2 separate regions of the Homo sapiens genome follow, and region 1 is linked to region 2. The links come from fine-mapping of genetic effects on gene expression. Tissue or cell type: whole blood. Region 2 holds a variant in brackets; the other region holds the start of a gene. All regions are shown on one strand. Distances are between the middles of the regions.

Region 1 (2,757 bases), 43 kb before region 2:
AACTCTACATCTTCTTAATTTATTGAGAAAAAGACACTTAGGATCTTCCTGTAATTAATTTGCCCATTGCTGGGAAATACTTGTTACCTGTCATAATGTAGTGCTTCAAAATAACGTTATCAGAACTGCAGTCGAAAGGTACTCAATACCAGTTAAGTAACATTTGAAGTCCAGGAAAGAGAAGTCAAGAATTCCATGATTCCATGTTTCCGTATTCATCAGGAACATAATTAAGAGTTTATTCATTTGAGACTTACAAGCAAACAAAAAAAGTTTATGTAGTTTGCAAGGAAGTTAATATTCTGATTTTATTCTTCGAAATGTACATATAAATAGTTCTCAAGTTTGATTTTATGATAAAAGTGTAGTTTGGGAAAAGGTCATTCTAACTTTAAAAAGGTCGCGAAAACAATAGAGGCTGAAGCATTGTTAGCGTAATTGGGGGAGGAGGGAGCAACGGCAAGAATTAAGAGCAGAACACAGGTCTAGAAACAGTACCTGTCCCAAAGTGGGTCTGCCCGGCGCTGTCGCTTTAAGCAGCGCTCCTGGAAACCTCATCTACAAATCCTGGGGCGGGTCAGGGGTGGCAAGACTCCTAAGGAGGGAAACGACAGAAATGATTCTGTTCTTGCGAGCCCCAAAGCAAGAGTACTTTTCTGATGGGTAAAGTGGTATTTCTTTCCAGGCTGCAAAGCTCTCCACCTTTTTCCTTTGGTCTCAGTCAGCCCCAGCCATGGGGGCAAATCAAGTTGGGGTCAACTCGGCTGCCAGAGACCTAAGTTGCCACAAGGGTCACCGACGACCTAAGCAGCAAGTTTCCTTCGTCCAGCCTCCTGCCCCCACGCACATTGCCTCCACAGCAAACTCCACCTGACTCAGCTTGTTTAACTCCAATCCTGCAGCCCTCCCGGCCTCAGCAGGGTCAGGGGGCGCGGGTCTGCGCCAAGACGGTTAGGAGGCCCAAGTCCTGGGACTGGACGGTTACTGCGCTCCCTTGGGCGCAGCCGCTGGCGGCGTGGGCGCGGCTGGGTCACGCCTCCGGCACCACCGCGCGCCAGCCCGCCCGTGGCATGGGAACCTGCGATTCAGTCGTCCCCGGGGACCTCCCAGCGCACACCGCTAGCCTGGGGCTTTCACCTCGATCCGCCCGGCCTGGGCGGCTCGTGTCCTCCCACACCGCCACCCGTGCCCGCTTCCCGGGGTGCGCCCGGAGCCTGGCCGCTCTCCCTGCAGGTGACCAGTACTCGTTTGGAGTTCAAGATTCCCGCCGCTCCACTTGAACTCCACCCTCCCCTCTTATTATTATTATTATTTTAACTTCCCTCCGGTTAAGCTAAATTGATCTTAATCTTTCATCTCGGACGTCCCTCTAAGGGGAGTGAGCGAAGATTCCGATTGCAAGTCGCCGCTGTCGCTTGTGCCCGTCAGCCCCTCGCCCAAAGGAGACGCCCCCGGGCGGGGCGGGGCGGAGCGGGGCGGGGCGGAAGGGCCCGGGTCTGCTGCGGACGGGGCGGGGCGGAGCCTCCTCCTGCACGGGGGAGCCCCCGGGCTCGCCCCAGCTCAGACACTCCTAGCCTTGGGGCAGCTGCCGGGCGAGTCAGCGGAGTAGCGGCCAGCGGGCGATGGAGACAGAGAGACACCCGACGAGAGGAGGCGGGGTGGGGGAGGCGGGGAGAGTGCGGGGGCGGAGGCTGGCAGGGGGCGCTGGAAGCTGGAGCGGTCCGTGCGCTCCCCGCGCCCGAGGGTGCAGGAGGCTCTGAAGCGGCTGCTGCACCGCGGGGCCCAGGCGGCGGCTGGGGGGCTGGGGGGCGCTGCCGCCGCCGCCGCCGGGGGCGTCGCTGGCCTCGGCCCCTTTGTTCTCGCGCGCTCCCCCTCGCCGCCCACTCCCCTGCTGTCGCGCGGCGGCGGCGGTGGCGGCGGCGGCTCCTCCCGCCCGAGGCAGTCGGGCTCGGCGCCGGGGGCGGGAGGGGGCGGGGGGAGCACGCCAGCCGCCGAGAGTGGGGGGCGATGGCGAAGCTCCGGGTGGCTTACGAGTACACGGAAGCCGAGGACAAGAGCATCCGGCTCGGCTTGTTTCTCATCATCTCCGGCGTCGTGTCGCTCTTCATCTTCGGCTTCTGCTGGCTGAGTCCCGCGCTGCAGGATCTGCAAGCCACGGAGGCCAATTGCACGGTGCTGTCGGTGCAGCAGATCGGCGAGGTGTTCGAGTGCACCTTCACCTGTGGCGCCGACTGCAGGGGCACCTCGCAGTACCCCTGCGTCCAGGTCTACGTGAACAACTCTGAGTCCAACTCTAGGGCGCTGCTGCACAGCGACGAGCACCAGCTCCTGACCAACCCCAAGGTAAGAACGCCCCGCGCACCCAGGGGCTCCCCGCGAGGGAGGTTTGGAGGCAGCGTCGGTGTTAGACTCCGCGCGGGGAGGGTTCGGCGTGTGCTCGCATTGCTAGGAGGAGACCAGGTGGCGCAGGCTGTGCTCAAACCAGGAATGACTACATCAGGGAGCCCCAGGGCTCCGGTCTTTTCAGGTGGGTTTACGCGCGGCGACCAGTGGTGCCCAGAGGCTTACTTTAAAACCTGTCTTGCCTGGTCTCAGATTTTGAGGCCTCGACCCAGTCCGGGTCCTGCGCCTACCGGACTGGGTTTGGAGAAGTGCAAGGAGCCAAGAAAGTTAACTTTTCCTCCATTTAAAGCCAGTGGTTAGCGGGGATCCACCTACTCCAGCTCACGGTCAAGGTCCGAGCTTCAGCTGGTCTCA
Region 2 (2,757 bases):
GAAGATTCTCCTCTCACCCCGACTACTCAGGAAATTACAAGGGTTTTACAAGTTCTGTGCCAGGAACCGGGGCAGAGACCAAATACAAATTTCTTATTATGTCACCTATAGCAGTTGTGTTAACTTCAGTACAGTAAATTTAAGCTCATTATACCTCCTTCAGAACGGATACACATTCCCTATCCATCATCTCACTGTCCCATTCCCAAACGGTGGGGGTGTAGATAGAAGCGGGGGTGGTCTATCACAGCCCAGCAGCACTCAAGACAGGATTTTTCAGCGACTCTGGGAAGGCAGGCGTTCGGAGTTTGGCTCTTTTACCATGACATATGTGAGAGGAAACAGGAGTGCTGTTTGGAGGTGTGAAAAATGGCAGCTCCCTGGTGCCATCTACTCTTAGTACACTTTTTACTACTGCTAAATATGAAATTAAAATAGACTTACTGTAGGGACTCCCAGATGCTCTTGAAAAGATGAACTTTATATTTAAAGAAACCTTTCGATTTCGCTCAAATGCAGGAAATTAGGGAGAATAGTCCAGTTTTGACTTTCAAGAAAAGGGTGTTATTTTAAAAATCTAAGACAAAGATTAGAGGAGTCTTAGCTTTCCACTGGTTAAGTCCTGTTGAGGCAAGCTGTATTCCAGTGTTGAGTCTGCAGCGGCCGAAGCAGCCCCGAAGCAGCTGTGCCTGCCGTGGGCAGTCAGTCTCGGTGCGGCCATCCCTCTCTACACCCAGGAAGGATTCTGCAGAGGCGTCACTGGGGTGAATTCATGCCAAGGGTTGAGTCCATTTGTGGCCCTCCCATATAACCTTTCCACTCTTTGCCTCCCTTAACCTCGAGGCTCAGTCTCCTTCCAAAATGTGTAGATTTTGTTTTTACACTTTTTTATTCAGGTAAGTTCACAATTCTCCCTATATCATGTTTTCATTTTTTTTCTCAGTCTTTCCCTGGCTTATTCCTTCTCAGCAAAACCTAACTTATACCCCCTTAACGAGTATACTTTGAAACCCCCTTTTCATTGCCAGAAAACTTCTCTGTATTCTCAATCTTTTCATACAATTTCCTTTCTTCATCTTTGCCTTAACTGGCTTCTCCTTGAAGAGGGCTTGTCCCTTTGAAAATAACTATTCATTCTTCAATTCCCTTTGGATCTAAAGGCCAAAAGGAGTGATCAGTCTTTTTATCTTTTCCTCTTGTTGGAGAGCATAGAGTTTTTCTATACAGGTTTACTTTTTAGTACTTTGTTTTATACCTCTGGATAGTAGGTCACAGAGTACACGGAGCAGGCTTACACAAACACACACGTCAAATGAACAAATCCAGCCACACCACCTGTGCAGTCTCTTGAATTCACTTCCTCCACCACTGCCTGGATTCAGGCTCTCACCTGGCTTGTTGAAGGCATCCTCAACTAGTCTGTCAGCCTTGGTCTTTCTCTTGTCTGTCATCCACACCACGCTAGGTTTTGTTTTGCTTTGTTTAAGCCTCCTTTTGATCTTGTCACAGTCCTTGATTAAATTTTTCTGCCTTCTTCTTATCTATAGGATAAAGGCCATGCTCTTCCAATTCCAACTT[A/C]AACTTCTGCCATTGAATTATGTGCCAGTCAAGGAAAACCAAAGACAAAACAACAAGAAAACAACAACAAAATAGCAGACACGGTCCTTGCCTTCATGGAGCCTATAGTCTGTAGTCACAACAGTAGTATAATTACAAAGTAGGGTAGTGCTATGAAGGGGAAGCTGAGGATGCTGCTATGAGATATTACGGCATGATGGGGAATTTCAAAGACCTTTCTGTGTAAATTAAAATTAGGTCAAGACCAGAGGATGTTCAAGAATTAGCTAGGTAAAAAGCTAGGGGGAGAATATTTCAGAATGAGATACTACCATGTGCCAATGTTCTGCAGCAAAAAAGAGCTTGGTGGTTTTAGGTACTGGAAGGCCAGTGTGTCAGGAGAACTGTGAATGAGTGGGAGAGTGGAGCAAGAACTATACAGGGCTTAGATTTCTCTTAAAATGTAGTGAGCAGCCAGTCGTTGGTTTTAAGCAGAGTGGTAATATGGTCTGCTTTACATATTTTAACTTTTATTCCAGCTGCATCAGTCACCTCGAGTCATTCTGTTTCCCATACACCTTGATGCCTTTGCTCCTGTCTCTTTCTCCTCACCTGGGGACACCTTCACCTTTTTTACTTCTGGGAATTAGCACAGCACAGTAGTCCTAGAATGAACTCTAGAACCAAACGCTTTCTAGTGGCGTGGTCTTAGATATGTTACTTAAATCTATCTGTGCCTCAGTTTCCTTTGCAGAAGTGGGATATAATATCAAGGAGATGGCATGTGCCTAACCCACAATAATTCCTACAAAAGTGTTTGCTATTATTGTTTTTATTACTATTATTAAGATTCACCTCAAATGTTACTGTGTAACCTTCTCCCACCTTTTCAGGTATAATTCATTACTTCCTCTTCTGCAGTCCCACACTGCCATGGTTGCTTTTATCACACTGTTAAGAGAGTTGAATATGTACTTTTTTGTTGTTATAGATTATGAATTCCTTAAGGGCAGCAGTCATGTGACATCAAGCATCGGGATTTACATTTCTCCTCTATCACTGATTAATTGTACGACCTTGGATAAATTGTGCAGCTTCTCCATCTTGGTTTCCTCGCCTGTAAAATGAGGATAGCATTACCCATCTTAAGAGCTTCTGTTTTGGTTTTGTAAGAAACACATTTGCACCATAGCTAATACT

What was found. PIP is the estimated chance that this variant, and not a neighbour inherited with it, causes the effect.
Region 1: KCNMB4 starts here. The variant in region 2 is fine-mapped to the expression of KCNMB4 in whole blood (TOPMed, PIP above 0.99). The same link has a PIP of 0.9 or more in blood mononuclear cells.

Annotation. Positions count from the first base shown.
Region 1 is chr12:70,364,728-70,367,484 of GRCh38, forward strand. KCNMB4 (potassium calcium-activated channel subfamily M regulatory beta subunit 4) reads left to right here and starts at 1,563. Exons shown (of 3, transcript NM_014505.6): 1 at 1,563-2,343. The coding sequence starts at 2,008. RefSeq lists a silencer at 1,379-1,618.
Region 2 is chr12:70,407,896-70,410,652 of GRCh38, forward strand. All of the region lies in intron 2 of KCNMB4 (potassium calcium-activated channel subfamily M regulatory beta subunit 4), which reads left to right. Among named protein-coding and RNA genes, the nearest start is that of KCNMB4, 43 kb to the left of the region's middle. The variant A/C (reference allele first, on the strand shown) is at 1,579.